3 linked regions of the Homo sapiens genome follow. The protein of the gene in region 2 interacts with the protein of the main gene of each other region in a biochemical or structural test. Each region holds a gene or a part of one and is shown on either strand. Other genes may lie near its edges.

Region 1 (7,491 bases), about 27 Mb from region 2:
AACATCACGTTGCACGTGACTCTGCTGGCACTGTTGCTTGTGAGGAAATGAACCAACCATCACTTACAGGGTAGGCATCTTTTAAACTGCAGGTCCAAAGATAAAAATAACGAGGGAGGCTGGGCATGGGGACTCACGTCTATAATCCCAGCACTGTGGGAGGCTGAGGCGGCAGGATCATTTGAGCCCAGGAGTTTGAGACCTGCCTGAGCAACACGGCGAGATACCGTCTCTACGAAAAATAAAATAAAAAATTAGCCAGGCATGGTGGTGGGCACCTATAGTTCCAGCTACTCAGGAGGCTGAGGCAGGAGGATCCCTTGAGCCCAGGAGGTCGAGGCTGCAATGAGCCATTGCACCACTGCACTGCAGCCTGGGTGACAGAGCAAGACACTGTCTCTAAAAAATATAAATAGGCCGGGTGTGGCAGCTCACGCCTGTAATCCCAGCACTTTAGGAGGCCGAGGTGGGTGAATCACCTGAGGTCAGAAGTTCGAGACCAGCCTGGCCAACATGGTGAAACCCCATCTCTACTAAAAATACAAAAATTAGCTGGGCATGGTGGCAGGCGCCTGTAATCTCAGCTACTCAGGAGGCTGAGGCAAGAGAATTGCTTGAATCCGGGAGGCAAAGGTTGCAGTGAGCCGAGATCATGCCATTGTACTCCAGCCTGGGGGACAGGAGTGAGACTTCGTCTCAAAAAAAAAAAAAAATATATATATATATATATATATATATTTTTTAAATGTATAAATACATCATATATATTTTAATATATAAATATATTATATATATTATATATTTTAATATATAAATATATTATATATAATATATTTTAATATATAAATATTATATATATTATATTTTAATATATAAATATTATATATATTAATTATATATTTTAATATATAATATATATTATATTATATAATAATAAATTATATATTATATTATATAGTAATAAGTTATATATTATACTATATAATAATATAGTATAATATATAATATATATTATAATATATATTATATTATATTATATTATATTATATATTATAATATAAATTATATATATTTTATATATATGTTTTATATATTATATATTTTAATATATGAAACAGGGGAACTTCTTCTAAGGAAAAGACAGAATTAAGGCAACAGGCTGATCCTAGTTTACCAGAGAAGAAACTGAGGCCGGGAGCAGGAGCCCAGCTCACTGAAGGGCAGATCCCAAGTCAGAGTCCAAGTCTCCCCACTTTTTTATTTATTTAATTTTTTCTGAGATGGAGTTTCATTCTTGTTGCCCAAATTGAGTACAATGGCACAATCTCGGCTCACCGCAACCTCTGCCTTCTGGGTTCAAGCCATTCTCGTGCCTCAGACTCCCAAGTAGCTGGGATTACAGGCATGTGCCACCACGTCCGGCTAACTTTTGTGTTTTCAGTAGAGGTGGGGTCTCACCATGTTGGCCAGACTGGTCTCAAACTCCTGGCCTCAAGTCATCTGCCTGCCTCAGCCTCCCAAAGTGCTGGGATTACAGGCATGAGCCGCTGTGCCTGGCCTTATGTCTCCCCTTTTGAATTCAGAGCCTTCCCCCGTGTAGTGAGTGCTTCTGCCTCTCTAGCCCTTCCTGTGGGTTCTGCCTGGGCCTGACCTCTGTGAGAGACCTGGCAGGAACAGGTCTGTCAGGCCTTGTGGGGAGTGGGTGTGGGAATAGGTTTTGATACCCAACTTAGCAGGTGATCCTGAGATGGGAGGACACAGGGCTGTTTGGGATGGGCGTCTTAGCCATAGTAAGGTTTGGTTCATATCAAGCAGGGACCACCCATGGCGTCATTTCCAGGCCCCACCTCTTCAGTATGCCATAGAAAACTACTTGGGCAGTAGAGGTGTGGGAAGAAAACAAAAAAGAAAGCTGGGCATAAGTGGCACACGCCTGTAATCCCAGCACTTTTGGAGGCCGAGGCGGGTAGATCACCTGAGGTCGGGAGTTCAAGACCAGCCTGAACAACATGGAGAAACCCTGTCTCTATTAAAAATACAAGATTAGCCGGGCGTGGTAGCACATACCTGTAATCCCAGCTACTTGGGAGGCTGAGACAAGAGAATCGCTTGAACCCAGGAGGCGGAGGTTGTGGTGAGCCGAGATCGTGCCATTGCACTCCAGCCTGGGCAACAAGAGTGAAACTCTGTCTCAAAAACAGACAAACAAACAAACAATAAAAAACCCCCAAAAATTAGCTGGGCATGGTGGCGTGTGCCTGTAATCCCAGCTACTAGGGAGGCTGAGGCAGGAGAATCGCTTGAACCCGGGAGGGGGAAGTTGTAGTGAGCCAAGATCATGCTACTGCACTCCAGCCTGGGCAACAGAGCCAAGACTCTGTCTCAAAACAAACAAACAAACAAACAAAAAAACGCAGGAAAAGAGTGTGTGATGGCTGAAACTTGCAATTTCTCACTCTCAACGAGCCCTGGCCCCAACTAGGTTATTTGGGCTCCCTCCCTAGGTCTCAGGGACCTCTGTTCAAAGTCCTAGCAATCTGGGCCAGGTACAATGGCTCACGCCTAAAATTCCAGCACTTTAGGAGACCAAGGCGGGCAGATCACTTGAGGCCAGGAGTTTGAGACTGGCCTGGCCAACATGGTGAAACCCTGTCTCTACTAAAAGTACAAAAATTAGCCGGGCATGGTGGTGCACCCCTGTAATCCCAGCTACTCAGGAGGCTGAAGCACAAGAATCTTTTGAACCTGGGAGGCAGAGGTTGCAATGAGCTGAGATGGCGCCACGGCACTCCAGCCTGGGCGACAGAGCAAGACCCTGTCTCAAACAACAAAAAACAAATAAAACAAACAAGGTCCTAGCAACCCTACTAACCTGTTATGAAGACTGATACAGGGGCATCACCTGCCCCAATTTTCTGACTCAGGTCAGCCTTATATTCCTACTCTAATCTCACCCCTATCCCCGTCCCACACCCACTATTCTTAAAACCTCCATGGTCCTCCGGGGGCAGCTGTAGACACATTAAGCCCAGGGCTATGGGGCCACTGGAACCTTCTCCAGTGGGTCTGAAAACATCAGCATTCCAGGAGTTGATGAGCCCCTACCTGGGCACCACTCCCTCTTGGGCCTGAGAAGGCCGGGGGGAACCTGCAAGGAATATGTGGAATTCTATATGGTGCCTCTGATACTGCGGTAATGTCAGGGAGAGGTTTGTTCAACTGGTCAGGGCCCTGAAACCCCGATCACTTTCTCATCTCTGCATCTTGAAGGCTAGCAGAGAGGAGGAACCCTGAGCTCTCTAGGAGGTGGGTAGGTGGTGGCAGTACAGACTCCTAGATGTCTAAACGGAGTTGCAGAGAGAAGGCTTTCTCGGTAGACCCTGGAAGGGACTTTTACGGTAGAACTTTCATTTTACAAGCAGGGATAGAGGCCTAGATGGGGACAGAGACGTGTCCAAGGTAAAACAATGGACGGAGGCAGGGCAGGGAGAGGCCAGGTCCTAGACTCGGCCTCAGCACCCCTCCCACACACACATCGACACAGAAGCTGGTCCAGATTTATAATTTAATGGCTGTGCAGATCCCAGTCCCTCATTTCTGTCGCTCACGTGCCCACTGGTCTGGGGTCAGGGTTTTCTGTTCAAAGGCATGGATGTGCGGGAGCTCTTCTGCTAGGCACGCGTTCACCAGCCTGGGGCGAGAGATGGGGTTAGGAAAAGGCCAGCGGTGATCGCACACCCCGAGGCTAGGGTGACCCAAGAGACTGGTGTCCCCAAGGTTGTAGTCCCCAGGCCGTGGGAACACGTACTTGGAGAGAGGGTCTACATCGAAATACTCGAAGCAGGGGTCACGAAGGCGGGATCCTCAAGGTCCCTGAGCCACGCCAGGGGGAGTGCGGGAGTCAGGTTGCAGGGGTAGGGGGAGTGGCTGGGGTTGTGGTACAGGAGCTAGGCAAGGTGCTCCCAGGGCCTTACCTGTGTCTCTGAAGCAGCGGTTTCCCCTCGAACTTGGCCGACACCACCAGGACTCGGAAGCTACAGGAGCAACGGTTGAGGGTCGTGTCCTCCACCTCCTACCGAGCGGAAGAATATGAATGGTGCCGAACCCGCCCCCCGAGCTCTTTTCCCCTTGTCCGGCGGCTCAACTCACCACATGCTCCGCCTCCAGGTCCCGCTGCAGCTTCTCGCGGAGGTATTCGGCGCTGAGTTCCATGGCGGCAGTCCAGCTGGAACGGCAGCCCAGCAGGGACACAACCCCAGCTCGGGCGCCGGCCACGCTACCTTGCTGCCTTACAGGAGCCACTTCCGCTGGAAAACTCACTTCCGCCCTTACTAAGGCGTACGTCAACGCAGTACTTCCGCCCTCAAGCAGCCGGGCTTTCCAGCGGTCCAGGCTTTTCGCGCTTGCCATGTGTCAGCCAATCAGAGCCTGAGGAAGGTGGGACTCGGGCGGAGCCGATGCTGAATGGTACGCGCTCGCCGACTGGACAGCAGTCTGGCTTCCGCGGTCGGACTTCTACACCCGCCTCCAGACAGGAGAGGGGCACGTACCGGCGCTACGGCTTCCTGCAGGCTGCCTCCGGATAGTCCCCGAGAGCTTGTTCCGAAGCAAGCACCCTGCAGCCCTAGCGATCCAGCCCTCCCCTGGACCCTAGGTCACGGCAATCAACCCCCTGCTGTGGTTCCCGAACCCCAAGGCCCGATGGGTCCCGCGGGGGTCGCGGCGAGGCCAGGGCGCTTTTTCGGCGTCTACCTGCTCTACTGCCTGAACCCCCGGTACCGGGGCCGCGTCTACGTGGGGTTCACTGTCAACACTGCTCGTCGGGTCCAGCAGCACAATGGGGGCCGCAAAAAAGGCGGGGCCTGGCGGACCAGCGGGCGAGGGCCCTGGTGAGAGGGGGAGGCCTTCTGTGCCGGGAGGAAGGCGTCCCAGAGGAGGCGGACCCCGCGGGGCACAGGCCTGTTGAGAAGGACCGGCCAGGACTGTGACAGAGGCGGGGCGTCTGTGGTGGGGACGGGGCCTGTCGCAGGGGAGGAGCGTGACGGGGAGGCGGTGCCCGGGGCATCTCCGCGGCGGAACTCAGGGAAGGAGCTAGCTGGGGCGGGGGTGATGATCCAGGCTGGGTTCCAGCATAGGGCTCTTGGTGGGCACGCTGGGGTCGGGTGGAATGCAGGAGAGAGAGGAGGTGGGACAGGTGGGTACCTGGGCTGGAGGCAGGGCCTGAGGTGGGCAGGTGCAGAGGGCTGCACTTCTCGGCTGAAGCCGGGAATGAGGACCCCGCTCTCGGGTGGGATTGGAGGGGACCCGCGGCTGAGGCGCTGGGCTGCGACAGGGACATCACCGTTCTCCTCCTCAGGGAGATGGTGCTCGTCGTGCACGGCTTCCCGTCCTCCGTGGCCGCCCTTCGGGTAAGGAAGGAGACCGGGCAGCGGCGGCCGGGTGAGGGCTTGGGTTCCGCCCCTCGCTCCGAGCCGCCCTGATGCCCCTGTACGCCGCCCGCAGTTTGAGTGGGCTTGGCAGCACCCGCACGCCTCGCGCCGCCTGGCGCACGTGGGGCCTCGCCTGCGAGGAGAGACAGCCTTCGCTTTCCACCTGCGCGTGCTGGCGCACATGCTGCGCGCACCGCCCTGGGCTCGCCTCCCGCTCACGCTGCGCTGGGTGCGCCCAGACCTCCGCCAGGACCTCTGCCTCCCGCCGCCGCCGCACGTGCCTCTGGCCTTCGGGCCTCCACCGCCCCAGGCCCCGGCCCCAAGGCGCCGCGCAGGTCCCTTTGATGACGCGGAGCCTGAGCCAGACCAGGGGGATCCAGGGGCCTGCTGCTCCCTGTGCGCCCAGACCATCCAGGTGAGGTCCCCCCGAGGAATGGATGGCTCTAGAGTCCAGACGACTTCGGATCCAGCTCTTTCTTGAGGGAAACCCACTGACACGCTTTGGCCACCCTATCCCCATCTCTAAGATGCTGATGCTATAGGACTTACGGCCATTCCTGAGCAAAGCAGGCCCTGCTCAGGGCCTTCACCATTTCCCCTTCAAAGAAAAGGTTCTTCCCTAGGCCATCAGTACTCCGCTGCACTCCAGTGTGGTCGACAGAGCATGACCCTCTTTTTTTTTTTTTTTTTTTTGAGATGGAGTCTAGCTCTGTCGCCCAGGCTAGAGTGCAGTGGCGCGATCTCTGCTCACTGCAAGCTCCGCCTCCTGGGTTCACGCCATTCTCCTGCCTCAGCCTCCCGAGTAGCTGGGACTACAGGCGCCCGCCACCACGCCTGGTTAATTTTTTGTATTTTTAGTAGAGACGGGGTTTCACCGTGTTAGCCAGGATGGTCTCGATGTCCTAGCCTCGTGATCCGCCCGCCTCAGCCTCCCAAAGTGCTGGGATTACAGGCATGAGCCACCGCGCCCGGCCCTTTTTTTTTTTTTAGACAGAGTCTTGCTCTGTTGCGGAGGCTGGAGTGCAGTGATCTCAGCTCACTGGAAGCTCCGCCTCCTGGGTTCAAGCGATTCTCCTATCTCAACCTCCCAAGTGTGCCACCACACCTGCCGAATGTTTGTGTTTTTAGTAGGGATGGGGTTCGCCATGTTGGGCAGGCTGGTCTCAAACTCCTGACCTCAAGTGATCTGCCCGCCTCGGCCTCCCAGAGTGCTGGGATTATAGGCGTGAGCCACCATGCCTGGACATGACCCTGTCTCTAAAACAATGTAATGAACTGCAGCTCATTCTTGTGTGCACTTTTCTGCACCCCCTTTCCCTTAACACTTACTATTGTCTGGCATGCTACGTGTTTTCTTGATCTCATTAGCCTCTCCCACCCCAACTGCCACACTGCACTATCAGAGGGCAGCACTTATCACTGCTGTAGAACAAAGTCCTGCACTGAGCCGATGGCCCAGAAATTTTCTTTTTATTTATTTATTTATTTTTTTTTTGAGACAGAGTCTTACTCTGTCGCTCAGGCTGGAGTGTAGTGGCGCGATCTCAGCTCACTGCAACCTCTGCCTCCTGGTTTCAAGCAATTCTCCTTCCTCAGCCTCCAGAGTAGCTGGGATTACACGCGCCTGCCACCGCGCCTGGCTAATTTTTGTATTTTTAGTAGAGATGGGGTTTCAACCATGTTGGCCAGGCTGGTCTCAAACTCCTGACCTCAGGTGATCCTGCCCACCTAAGCCTCCCAAAATGCTGGTATTACAGGCATGAGCCACCGTGCCCGGCCTAAATATTTAATAAAATAATGGACGATGGGTGCCTTCTACTGAGCTCCCGGTAATTGTGAGTGAGTAGAGGACTTGCCCTGGGGACATTCAGTGACCTGCTGGGTGTTGCTGAGCTGTGAGGAAGTTCAGGTCTGGCTGCAGTGGTGAGGCTGTGACTCAATCAATCACTGCTGATGCTCCCAGGACCTGCACCAGCTTAGTCCTAGGGGCAAGGATTTTAACTGTCCACCTCAGTTTCTTCATTTGTAAGATGCAAATAACAGTCACCCCTGCCTCATGGGA
Region 2 (7,026 bases):
CTCATTGTATGGCTAGACTGTGTTTTTCCCATTCTTAGATGAGGAATATGACCATGGTTTATCCTTTCGTCCATTGGCGGACATTTGGAGCATTTCTACCCTTTGGGATTGTGGATAGAGCTGCCGTGAACATGGGTTTCATGTATTTGTTTGGGTACCTGCTTTCAGTTCTTTGGGGTCTCTACTTAGGAGTGGAATTTCTAAGTCATCATGTAACTGCATTTAATCTTTCCTTGCTTTCTTTAGCCAACTTTGCTGACAGATACCTAAGTGTAGTGTCTAGGGGCTGACTGCCGGGAGACGGAGCCAGGCTGTGTAGAGGGGATTGGCTTTGGGGAACTTGCTTTGACCACAGCACGTCTGTGTTGACCTGGACCCACATTTGCTCCAATCCACATTCCTGGGGAGGGTGGTTCTCCTGTATTGACTGTTTTCCTTCAGGTGCTTGGATGAAGCTGAAAAGACACTAAGACCTTCTGTGCCTCAGATCCCTGAGTGCCCGATTTGTGGGAAACCGTTTCTTACCTTAAAGAGCAGAACCAGTCACTTGAAGCAGTGTGCTGTGAAGATGGAGGTTGGCCCCCAGCTCCTGCTTCAGGCTGTGCGGCTGCAGACAGCACAGCCTGAGGGTAGCAGCAGCCCACCCATGTTCAGGTAAGTCGACGAAAAGGAAGAAAACCAAGCCAAATAATGCTGTGTGCACTCAGGGCTTTTTCTATTTAAAAAAGCTTTTTATGGGCTGGACGCAGTAGTTCACACCTGTAATCGCAGCACTTTGGGAGGCCAAGGTGGGCAGATCACCTTAGATCAGGAGTTCGATACCAGCCTGGCCGACATGGTACAATCTCGTCTCTACTAAAAATACAAAAATTAGCATGGTGGCACATGCCTGTAGTCCCAGCTACTTGGGAGGCTGAGGCAGGAGAATCACTTGAACCCAGAAGGTAGAGGTTGCAGTGAGCCAAGATCGTACCACTGCACTCCAGCCTGGACAGAGTGAGATCCTGTCTCCAAAAAAAAAAAAAAAAAAAAAAAAAAAAAGCTTTTTATAGTGTTGGAGGGAAAAAGAGCCCTCTTTGATTCTGGAAATGAAACACTTAGGGCGGAAATCGGGCACAGTCTAGAAGGGAGTGAGGAGGGGACAGAATCTGCATTCTGGAAGGCTCTGGACCTGCCCCTTTAGGGGGGTGCAGAAATGATCTTCGCACTGTTTTCCTCAAGGTCCTTCCTGAGTTTCCAATCCCATGATCCCACAGTCGGTACCCTCTAGTGCAGGGGTCCCCAACCCCCCAGCCTCGGACCAGTACCGGTCTGTGGCCTGTTAGGAACCTGGCCACACAGCAGGAGGTGAGCAGCGGGCAGGCAAGCTTTACTGCCTGAGCTCCGCCTCCTGTCAGATCAGTGGTGGCATTAGACTCACAGGAACACAAACCCTGTTGTGAGCCGCACATGCATGGAATCTAGGTTGAGCTCTCCTTATGAAAATCTAAAGCCTGATGATCTGAGGTGGAATGCTTTGATGCTGAAACCATTCCCCTACTCCTGTCCCATGGAAAAATTGTCTTCCATGAAACCAGTTCCTGGTACCAAAAAGGTTGGGGACTACTGCTTTACCACATCTAAGAATTTGGTAGTCACTTTACTCCATCCATTTCGTTGTTGGACAGCATGGTTTCCACCTCAGCACAGTCCAGTTTTCACACTGTTAACATAAGATTACTCAGCACAGTTCACAGATTTGGTGATTGGCCAGGCACGGTAGCTTACACCTGTAATCTCAATACTTTGGGAGGCCAGGGCGGAAGGATCACTTGAGCCCAGGAGTTCAAGGCCAGCCTGGACTACATAGCAAGACCCATCACTACAAAAAATTAAAAAATTAGCTGGCTGTGGTGCTGCACACCTGTAGTCCCAGCTACGTGGGAGGCTGAGGCGGAAGGATCACTTGAGCCTGGGAGGCCAAGGTTGCAATGAGCTGTGATTGCACCACTGCACTCCAGCCTGGGCGACAGGGCAAGAACCTGTCTTCATAAAACAAACAAAAACAACAACAAAGTTGGTGCAACAGAAGTGTAGGACCCTATTTTTTAAAAATCTTGCATGAATTAATGCTTAAAAGTTAAAATGAGTTGCCTTGCTCACAGCCAGGAAACAAGTCCTCAGCATGCAAACCACAGCCACACAAGTGCCAGAGGGCTGGCCCTGCTCCACGCTGCCCTGCTGCTGAGGACGCTAGAGCTGACACCAGGTTCATAGTGAACAAAGGCATCTTGGACCTTTGACTCCTCCAGGTTTGAGACCGCTGTCAGGAGCAAAGGGAAGGCCAAAGGCGATAGCTGTTTGTCCCGCCCCCTGCTTTGCACACAGGTCATGGGCAGCTGAGCTGGCTCGGGGCTGAGATGGCAGAGGGCAGAGGGGATTCTCTTGGTGGAGGAGCGCATCTGTATTTAGCATGGCAGGGGTGCAAGCCTTGAGGCCTTAGAATAGACGTCATCTAAGCCATTGTTTCTTTCTTGGCAGGACCACGCCAAAAGCACCTGCTCAGATAAAGTATGTCTGCCTTTAGAATACCTCCAAGTACTGAAACTAGATGTATGTGGATCCGTTTAGAAGGTTGTCAGAGTAGAAAACTACAGGAGCTGGATGCCCTCATGGGGTCTTTGAACCCCTCCCTCCCCAAAGGCCAAGCCTGTGGTCATCAGAACGCATGCCCCGGCCAGAGTGCCTCATATTCTTTCCCCACAGCCCAAACCTGGCCTGCTGGGGAGTGAGGAGGGAACACAGTCTGTGTTCCCTTCACAGAAGCAGGGTCCCAGGCTGCCCAGGCAGCTCCTTTCCCTCTGGGAGGCTGTGATTATCCACGTTCCTGGGAAGGTGAACTTGAGCCATCCCTGGCACCCTGGAGAGCATGAGCTTTTGCAAAAGCCAGAGGCATGACTGCATTGCAGGGAAGGTGGGCCCGGTTTGTGCTAAGTTCCTTTGTCACCTCTGCCCTCCTCCTTCTTGCCCAGCTTATTGGGAGTCACCCAGGCAGCCTAGGTTCTCTCCAGCCGGAAACTCCTGTTCATTTCCTCCAAACCAAACGAGCTGCTGCCCGTTGAAAGTGCAGAGTCCCGGGGCGGCTGGTATAATGTTGACCATCGGCAGCCTAAGCTGGGAAGCCCTTCCTTCTGGCCATGGACAGAGGCACTGCCGTGGAGCCCTTGCAGGAGGGAAGGGATCCTTTTCTGCCGGTGTGGCCAGGACCGTGTAAGGAGCATCGGAAGTATTGATGGGTGAAGGTGGTGGGAGTCCAGGGAGCCTGCTCAGAGCCATCGATTGTTGACTCCATTGGATGGGCTTGGCCACATGAGGATGTGCAGGTACCACAGATGGCTCCGTACATCTGCCATGAGCCTGCTGGACAGCAGCACGTGAAGGAACCCAGACCCTCCTGTGCCTGGGCCATGTTGAACTTCTGGCCTGGAATTGAATGAGTTCACACAAGGCAGTGGAAGTGGGGGACGCATCTGCCTGGCAGGTCCACATCCGTCACTTTTCTCTCAGGCCCAGCCCTCTCCAGACCAGTGTGACCAACCTGAGAAGCGTGCACTCCTCTAGCCCCAGTAACTTTTCTCTTTGGCTGTTTTCTAGCTTCAGTGATCACAGTAGAGGTCTGAAACGGAGAGGACCCACCAGCAAGAAGGAGCCACGGAAGAGGCGGAAGGTGGACGAGGCACCGTCCGAGGACCTGCTGGTGGCCATGGCTCTGTCCCGGTCGGAGATGGAGCCGGGTGCGGCTGTACCAGCGCTCAGGCTGGAAAGTGCCTTTTCTGAGAGGATAAGACCAGAAGCAGGTTTGTGTGATCAGAAGAGTGACCCTGGGAGAGGCCATCAGCAGGTCCCGGGTGAGTGGACCGACTCCACCGTTGATGGTGTCGCTTTTGTTTCTCTCTAGAGAATAAAAGTCGCAAGAAGAAACCCCCGGTATCCCCCCCATTGTTGTTAGTCCAGGACTCTGAAACCACAGGCCGACAGATAGAGGACCGTGTGGCCCTGCTCCTCTCTGAGGAAGTGGAATTGTCTAGCACGCCACCACTTCCTGCCAGCAGGATTTTAAAGGAAGGGTGGGAAAGAGCGGGCCAGTGTCCTCCTCCACCTGAACGCAAGCAGAGCTTTCTGTGGGAGGGCAGCGCACTGACTGGGGCCTGGGCCATGGAGGACTTCTACACGGCCAGGCTGGTCCCTCCTCTCGTGCCCCAGCGGCCTGCCCAGGTGAGTCCCTCCCCTCAGGCACATGGATAGGCTTTTGGGGGAGGTTGGCAATCCCAGAACTGCAACACTGGGTACCCACAGCCAGGTGATGGAAAGTCCAGGAAGGAAAGGCAGAGGCGGGAGGAGGCCAGAGGGGCACTTGGTGGCTGCAGCTTTCTTCTCTGTCCAGCAACTACATGGTACTCTGGGTAGGATCAGGGAGGACCCTTGGTGTCCACCAGAGTGTGTTCCTGGAGTTTGTTGAAAATGCAGAGTCCCGGCCGGGCGCAGTGGCTCACGCCCGTAATCCCTGCACTTTGGGAGGCTGAGGTGGGCGGATCACGAGGTCAGGAGTTCGAGACCAGCCTGGCTAATATGGTGAAACCCCATCTCTACTAAGAATACAAAAATTAGCCAGGCATGGTGGCACACACCTGTAATCCCAGTTACTTGGGAGACTGAGGCAGAAGAATCGCTTGAACCGGGGAGGCGGAAGTTGCAGTGAGCCGAGACCGTGCCATTACACTCCAGCCTGGGCAACAAAGTGAGACTCTGTCTTGAAAAAAAAAAAAAAAACAGAGTCCCAGGGCAACTGGCAAAATGCCTCAGATGGAGCCCGGAAACTGGCATTCGGAGCACACACTCCAGACAGTCGTGCGGCAGGTAGCCCTACAGTCAGTACGCAGCTGCCTGAGGCAGCTTGGAGGACTTCAGGAGGGCGGCAGGCCTGGGCCCCCCTGGCCTCTGACAAGCCTTTGTGCAAACAGATGCCACAGGCCTGGCCTTGGCCGTGACAGAGGAGGAGCATGTTGACATGAGTGCTGGGGAAAAGCATCCCAGGACTGCTCCAGGCTGTGGCTGGAGCCCCGGGGACAGTCTGTCCCCACAGCCCACATCCTGCTCTGTAGTTTTAGGTCCAGCCGTGCATACCACATGTGATGGCTTCTGCAGTGTGTGCGTCAATGACAGTGACCACGTGGTCACTCTCCTTACTGGCTTCTTTCAGGGCCTTATGCAGGAGCCCGTGCCGCCTCTGGTGCCACCTGAGCACTCAGAGCTGAGCGAGCGAAGGTCACCCGCTCTCCACGGCACCCCCACTGCAGGCTGTGGCTCCAGGGGCCCGTCGCCTTCGGCCAGCCAGAGGGAGCACCAGGCCCTGCAGGACCTCGTGGACCTGGCGAGGGAGGGACTGAGCGCCAGCCCGTGGCCCGGCAGTGGGGGCCTGGCTGGCTCGGAAGGGACTGCAGGTGAGATGCTGGGTGGGACTCTAGGGCCAGCCCTGCCCTCCCGGGCCTCCCCTCCCCGCGGCTGAGGCTGCCATGGACTGGCTCTTGTGCCGCCGCGACGGCAGCTCTGACCTGGTGGGAGAACACGCAGCCTCTGGGCGCTTTCATTTTTTCTCAAAGGTCAATGTGGTGTAGACAACTCTGTCATGATTTTCCTTCCACTTTAACCAAAGACAGAGCTGTCTGCCCACAGCGAGTGAATCCTCTGGGTGAACTGTCTGTTTTGCTCTTCTCTTACCTCCCTGGTGGAGTGGTGGTGAGACAGGGTGTGCGGGTTTGCTTTGCATGAAGGTGTCCTCGGATAGCAAGCACCTTCCGAGGCACCGCAGGGGCTGGCTCAGCCTGTGGTCAACGCTGTCTTCTTGGTGGTGGATGTGGCTGGGCTGTGACGTTCCTTTAACCTGTGAATCCTCCACTCAGGGTTGGACGTGGTGCCCGGCGGCCTTCCTCTGACTGGGTTTGTGGTGCCATCGCAGGACAAGCACCCGGACAGGGGCGGCCGCACCTTGGTAAGAACTGGCTCTGGCCCGCGCTCTCTGGTCCCGGCCATCCCACTTGCCATGTGTGTGGTGGGGTTGGCTCACCGCTGGCCTCTGGCCCCCAACGCAAGTGCAGTGGCCTCTCAAGGCCTCTGCTTTCCAGAAGGCTGCCACATCCTGACATCCGTGAGCAGAGCCACGGACCCACAGCCACCTCAGCGCCCCTCTGGGGGCTCTGCCACGAGACTTCTGCCTTTTCTGTCTGTGACTCCATGGGGCACCTTGGGGTTGAGGCCCCAGAGCCTGCCCTGTCCTGGGTCCCAGGAGTGTAGAGGGACCACAGTTTCTCAGCGCGGTTGCCCCATCCAGGCACGCTCTGCTCGTTCCTCAGTAGTTGGGAGCTCACCAAGGGCTTGCTCTCCCTCCCCTCTGTGCGGGTCCTGGGCTCCAGAGCACAGCTGAGCAGCCTGGCCTGGCCTCCCTGTCAGTGCGCTGTCTGGGGAAGAACCGGGGTGGGAACTGGCTTTTCCCTAGAGTGGACCTCCTCCCATTTGCATGTCAGTGTCAACCAAGCACTTCATGCCAAGGCCAGCCTAGGGACATCATCACAGACTGGACCCGGCTGTCCTCTTGGCCAGGTCCCCGAGCTGCTTGGACTCAGGGTGCTTGTCCGTCACAGGGGATGGGTGCACCTCCTCAAAGCCCAGGTATCCCGCAGCCTGTCCCACTCAGTGCGGGAGCTGCCAGCACTGTGAGTTCACATCTAGCCCCATGTCTGGCATCTCCACGGGGGCCAGGGAACCCACTGGCAAGAGCCAGAGGAACAAGCTAGTGCTTTGCTCTTCTGTGCTACTCAGGGCCTTAGGGTCACTCAGAGGTTGAGGCCATCGTGGGAAGCGTTTTGGAGAGGAAAGGAGAATGCAGGTCCTGGCTCCCGGCCCACCCTAGCGCCACCTCCATGCGGGGAGCTTCCCACTGCCCAGTTAGCAGAGCAGAGGTGGGGAGGTGACGGCTCTTCCTCTCCTCCT
Region 3 (5,781 bases), on a different chromosome or scaffold from region 2:
TTCTGGCTGACATTTCCTCCCTCTCCTCCCCTTACAATTACAGGATAAATATGCTTTTATTTTAAAGGATACTTATCAGGGCCCCAGCAGGAAGACAGATGGCACATTCAACTCAGGGTAATTAAAAGAAGATTGAATAAAGGGACTGTTTGCCAAGGCATGGGCAGGGTATGAGGAAACTACCAGTGACAGCATGGTACCTCACAGTAATAACAGCACAACTTAGGTTTTTCGACCTCAGTATTGTTGACATTTTAGATTGGAGAATTCTTTGTTTTGGGTGCTGTCCTATGATGTGCACAATGTTTAGCAGCATTCCTGGCCACTATCTACTAATGTACCCCTCTCAGTCATGACAATAAAAAATGTCTGCAGACACTGCCAGATGTCATTTGTGGGGAAAAATCACCCCCGGTTGAGAACCATTGGCATAGCTGTTACCATCCCTATGCCTGAAGGGATGAGGGGAAGGAGTGGTTAACAGAATTCAGGAGAGAGAAATGGAGAGAGGACCACCTTGAGCGAAGCTATGAGCTGCCACAGAGGGGGACAGCAAACCCTAGGTGACCCCACTGGGAGGGAGCCAGGGGAAAAATACCCTGACTTCACTTTTCTCCTTCCCACTAGTCCTCTCCTCGGGTCCCTGCTGGTGACACCCAGCTGGGAGCCAGAAGACATGTGGGCCCTGTGTTTTTTGTAGAGATTGCAGAGTGTAGCTTGTATTTTTGGTAGAGACGGGGTTTTGCCATGTTGCCCAGGCTGGTCTTCAACTCCTGAGCTCAAGCAATCCACCTGCCTCAGCCTCTCAAAATGCTGCGATTACAGGTGTGAGGCACCTTGCCTAGCACTAAGATTCTTTTTTATCTCACCAGAAGCATCTTGTATAAAATAAGAAAAAAGATTTTTTTTTCCTCTCTTTGATTTCTTTTTTGGATCTGATAACTTTCTCAGTAACACAGGACAGTTCCCCACACTTTTTACTCTGGGGGTATTAGCAAGCCTTTATATTCATAGAGCAGCTTACCCTCTCAAGGCACTCCCACATTCTCTCTTGTGTTTCCATCAGTCATCCTATGGGGTAGGACTTCTCCCCACATCACAGGTGGGGAAACTGGGGCTCAGAAAAGTTAAAAGCCTTGTTGAGGATCACAACGGGAATGAGAACCCAGAGCTCCCCAAACCTACACTTTGCTGTAATATAGGTCTTGCTTTGCTTATAGGGACCCAATCAGAAAACTTTCTATCAAAGTCCTGTTCCCCAATTACTCCATAATACTGTACTGCTGGAGGATTGTTGGCCTTGAGGCATCCTTGACTTTGATTATGCCCTACCTGTGATAAACAGGAGGTACTCTCATAGACTGAAGTTTCCCTTGTGATTCTTGTCTTTGTCACAAAAAAACCTATCTGTTTGTAAGGACCACTCGGCTCACAGCATCTGCCTTCAAAGCCAGAGTCATTTACTTGTACTAACCTTTGGAAGAGTTTCCCTTCCCTCCATTCCCGTATTCAAAATGGCCCCAGCCCCTTTCAACTTGCTATGTTCCTTTTTTCTCTCTTTTTTTTTTTTTGAGACAGAGTTTCACCCTGCTGCCCAGGCTAGAATGCAATGGCATGGTCTCGGCTCACTGCAGCTTCTGCCTTCTGGGTTCAAGTGATTCTTCTGCCTCAGCCTCCCAAGTAGCTGGGATTACAGGCGTGTACCACCACGCCCAGCTAATATTTTTGTATTTTTAGTAGAGACGGGGTTTCACCATGTTGGCCAGGCTGGTCTCGAACTCCTGACCTCAGGTGATCCGCCCGCCTAGGCCTCCCAAAGTGCTGGGATTGGGATTACAGGTGTGAGCCACCGTGCCTGGCCTGCTATGTTCCTTTTTTTTTTTTTGATGGAGTCTAGCCCCGTTGCCAGGTTGGGGTGCAGTGTTATGATCTCGGCTCACTGCAACCTCCACCTCCCAGTTTCAAGCAATTCTCCTGCCTCAGTCTCCCGAGTAGCTGGGATTACAGGCACGTACCGCCACACCCAGCTAATTTTTGTATTTTTAATAGAGATGGGGTTTTACCGTGTTGGCCAGGATGGGCTTGATCTCCGACCTCGTGATCTGCCCACCTCGGCCTCCCAAAGTGCTGGGATTACAGGCGTGAGTCACCGCGCCCGGCTGCTATGTTCCTTTCTTATTCACTGTCTCTGAGATGCAGGGCACCAAGACTGAATCATTGAGGGCTGGGAGGGACAGCGACACTGTTTCTTGCCACAGTGACTTCATTCCAGAAAGGATAATGCATAAGGGGTGGGAGTTAGTTCATTCACCCAGAAGACCTGGGCCACTCTCACAGGTGCTCAATACCTGCTGACCTCCCTCCCTGTGCTGTGTTCTGGGTACTTTGGCAGGACAGAGAGGACTGGGTGGAGGAGCCAACAGTACTGGTGTTGCTCCGGGCAGAGGCATTTGTGTCCATGATCGACAATGGAAAGCAGGTGGGCAGAGCCAGAGGGTGGGAGGACACGGAACAGAGGGCTGACTCTTACTAGGAAGCAAGTATTAATGCAGTTTCTGCCCCTTCATGCAGGGAAGCCTGGACAGCACTATGAAAGGGAAGGAAACGCTTCAGGGCTTTGTAACTGACATCACAGCAAAGACAGCAGGGAAAGCTCTGTCACTGGTGATTGTGGATCAGGAGAAATGCTTCAGGTTTGGATTTGCCCTGGTGATTTCATGTTAAAAGGGGCAGCTCTTGGGCCAAGGGGGGTGAGTTTAGTTTATTCATTGCAGATGTAGGTCACTCTGCAAGGTAGTCCATCTCTAACAAGTCCAGGGGGATGCTCTGGTCCAGTCTTCTTCTGTATCTTCTGCCTGACTTCAGCCTGGAGCTGCTGTTCTTTGATTTCCTCCCCTGCACCAGTGCTCAGAATCCTCCAAGAAGAGGGAAACAGGGAGCAAATAAACAGACCAAGAAGCAGCAGCAGAGACAACCAGAGGCCAGCATAGGGTCCATGGTATCCAGGGTAGACGCTGAAGAGGTAAGAACGTCCTGTTGCCTGAATCGGGCTGGGTACTCACTGGTCACCTGAGACTTGCTATTGATAGAGAATAAAATGCCTGCTGCGTACTGTTTTCTGCCTTGGCACTGACTAAGAGAAGGTACCAAACAGGAAGCCAAGGGGCTGGGGTGTGGCTTTAGTGGACAGTGACTTGGCAGCTAGTCTCTTCCTACCCTTCCAGTCCATCGTTGCTTTTGGGTTTCTAGGCATTGGTGGATCTGCAGCTACACACAGAAGCCCAGGCTCAAATTGTGCAGAGCTGGAAAGAGCTGGCCGACTTCACATGCGCATTCACAAAGGCTGTGGCTGAGGCGCCCTTCAAGTGAGTAACCCCAGCAAGTCCAGCCTCCATGCTGGGCCTGTCCTTTACCATGGCTCTTGCAGTCAAAGCAAATGTCCCTTTCCCCTCATCTCTGCAGTCAGCCCATTGTCTCTCAAGCTTGAGGCAGAAGGAGCTGACCTCACACTGGGGATTCTTGGGAAGAGTCCTCAAGCCTAGCGCCTTTTCAAATATTCTCCTTTCGCCTATATGTAAGTATGTGTTCTGCAGGCTGATATCATAGGCCAGGTTACCATAGGCCAAGTTACCAGGATTAATTACAGGTCAGATCACAATGTAATAAGCACTAGGAAAGCAAATTTTTGGCCTACTCAGTTCAAGAAGTGTTCACTGTCAGAATTTAAAATAAGTAAATGACCTCAGAGACAATCCAGTCCAAGTCCCTTATTTTATACTTGAGGGGACTGAGGCCTGAAGAGATTGACTTGTCTAAGCTCCTAGCAGTTAGAAGAACCAGAAATAGATTGCAGATTGCCAGATATCCAAAGAATCTGGTATCTTTTCTTCTACTATAATGGACTAGATGTAGTTTTTAAATGAATCAGCAACTGGCCCTATACCTGGCAACAAAGTGAGCACTCAAATTGTCAAAGGCACAAAAAGGCCAGATGTAACATGGCGCCCACCTCTTCCAAGGTCAGTGGGGGGGTTTTCAGTTGCCACTTGAGGGGAACAGGTGTAGAAGAGTAATGAGCAACTTACAGCTCTCCAACCACGCTGTTGCAGGAAGCTCCGAGATGAAACTACCTTCTCCTTCTGTCTGGAGAGTGACTGGGCTGGAGGGGTGAAGGTGGACCTTGCTGGCAGGGGACTCGCACTAGTCTGGAGGAGACAGATTCAGCAGCTGAACCGAGTCAGCCTGGAAATGGCCAGTGCAGTTGTGAATGCCTATCCCTCCCCACAGCTCCTGGTACAGGTATGCTGCTCCAGGGCTCAGGGGTCACTGCCCATTGCCTGCGGGCTCAGTGGGCCCCCAGATTTCCATGGACAACTGTTGAGGGCCCACAAAGGCCTCACAGGTCAGCAGTGCAGGTCTACTAAGATCAGTGTTGCTAATGCTGACCCAGGGAGGGAGGACAGGTTCTCATGCCCCAAGCCAAGCGTAGCACCCTCCATGCTCATGGAGAAGGGATCACCATGGATGGTACCATATTAAGAGGTCATCTACCACTTCCAGGCTTATCAGCAGTGTTTTTCGGATAAAGAACGCCAGAATTTGCTCGCAGACATACAGGTGCGCCGTGGGGAAGGTGTGACATCCACTTCTCGCCGCATTGGACCAGAACTATCCAGGCGTATCTACCTTCAGATGACCACTTTACAGCCACATCTCTCTTTAGATAGTGCTGACTGATTCTAGCCCTCAGGGATGAGGATGAAAAGCTGGAAACTTCCACTTCCCCAACCTCAGAGCCTGACTGTAATGAAGAGACTGGCAGCACCTCCTGGAACACAAGCCTAGGTGAGGCCCAGTCTTTCTTGGGTCTTATTATTTGTGAAGGTCTCTCTGCCTGTCGGCTGGGGCAGAGACTGAAATACTGCCACCTACCTTTGGCATTTAATGTTCCTCTCCTGGCAAAAATTCACTGCCACAGACAAACCACCCCCACTCCTACCCAGCCAGCCCTCAAAACACAAAGGAACAAAGACAGTCCACTCAGACACTTATTTAATAACTGTAGAAATCCAAAAGAATTAGCATCAAATCTTGAAGTCGTGAGTGAAGCTGCGGGTTGGCTTGACTGGGCTCAGCCACTGAGCTGCCTCAACCGGCCAAGGAACGGGATTATGATGACTATGCGGACTTCTATATTGTCTTCATCTCATTGTGTGTATTATGTATTTAGTTTCAATAAAGCATTTGTACCAATGGCTCTGGAGCTTGGAGGAAGACTAAAGGAATGTGTAGTGATTCTGAGTAAGATGTAGACCTACGCAGCAGAGCTATGGGGGAGAAGATTAACAAAGTCCTTTCTTCCAATATCAGGATAGTCATGAGTTGCAGTCCCATCCAAAAGGTCATTAGGGCTAAAAGGCCCTCTGTGTCTCTGAACTATGAGATTCTTGCTCCCTCCGGGGGAGCCAAGGAGCTTGCAACTGGGAGTTTGCAGTGAATGAGCACCATGACACAGTCATTTCTGATCCCTCTATCCAGCTGTTGTGAAAAGATGAAGCAAAGGAGGCAAGAAAATGCTTAATTTAGCAGACAAGAGAATGGACAGTGTGATCCTTGTTTGTGCTAGCCATTGGGTGATGCACCACTTTTCAGCTCCATGATGCTACTTGTTTCCCTTCATATCCTGTTTCCATTTATGCCCTTCAGTTATGGTCTAGAATCAAACAATTCTAAACCTCAGTGTCTTATGAAGCTGACACTTCAAAACCTGCAGAAGCAGGT

What was found.
Region 1: the proteins of SLX4 (region 2) and SLX1A form a complex in vitro, tested with the Homo sapiens proteins (2 studies listed by BioGRID).
Region 3: the proteins of SLX4 (region 2) and EME1 form a complex in vitro, tested with the Homo sapiens proteins (3 studies listed by BioGRID, with this or other methods).

What each region holds. Positions count from the first base shown.
Region 1 is NC_000016.10:30,189,384-30,196,874, forward strand, and holds the start of SLX1A (structure-specific endonuclease subunit SLX1), read left to right. Parts: upstream 1-4,491; 5' UTR 4,492-4,701; coding exon 4,702-4,889; intron 4,890-5,049; exon of another isoform or gene 5,050-5,356; coding exon 5,357-5,408; intron 5,409-5,502; coding exon 5,503-5,844; intron 5,845-7,491. Other genes in the region: BOLA2B (bolA-like protein 2), read right to left, coding at 3,592-3,691, 3,975-4,072, 4,150-4,212. UniProt on the Homo sapiens protein: Catalytic subunit of the SLX1-SLX4 structure-specific endonuclease that resolves DNA secondary structures generated during DNA repair and recombination.
Region 2 is NC_000016.10:3,594,607-3,601,632, reverse strand, and holds part of SLX4 (structure-specific endonuclease subunit SLX4), read left to right. Parts: intron 1-441; coding exon 442-654; intron 655-2,144; exon of another isoform or gene 2,145-3,472; coding exon of another isoform or gene 3,473-3,633; coding exon 3,634-3,836; intron 3,837-3,937; coding exon 3,938-4,254; intron 4,255-5,239; coding exon 5,240-5,480; intron 5,481-5,939; coding exon 5,940-6,028; intron 6,029-7,026. UniProt on the Homo sapiens protein: Regulatory subunit that interacts with and increases the activity of different structure-specific endonucleases.
Region 3 is NC_000017.11:50,376,203-50,381,983, forward strand, and holds the end of EME1 (structure-specific endonuclease subunit EME1), read left to right. Parts: intron 1-2,392; coding exon 2,393-2,479; intron 2,480-2,571; coding exon 2,572-2,693; intron 2,694-2,865; coding exon of another isoform or gene 2,866-2,904; coding exon 2,905-3,022; intron 3,023-3,249; coding exon 3,250-3,365; intron 3,366-3,462; coding exon of another isoform or gene 3,463-3,487; exon of another isoform or gene 3,488-4,109; coding exon 4,110-4,299; intron 4,300-4,560; coding exon 4,561-4,737; 3' UTR 4,738-5,281; downstream 5,282-5,781. UniProt on the Homo sapiens protein: Non-catalytic subunit of the structure-specific, heterodimeric DNA endonuclease MUS81-EME1 which is involved in the maintenance of genome stability. In the complex, EME1 is required for DNA cleavage, participating in DNA recognition and bending.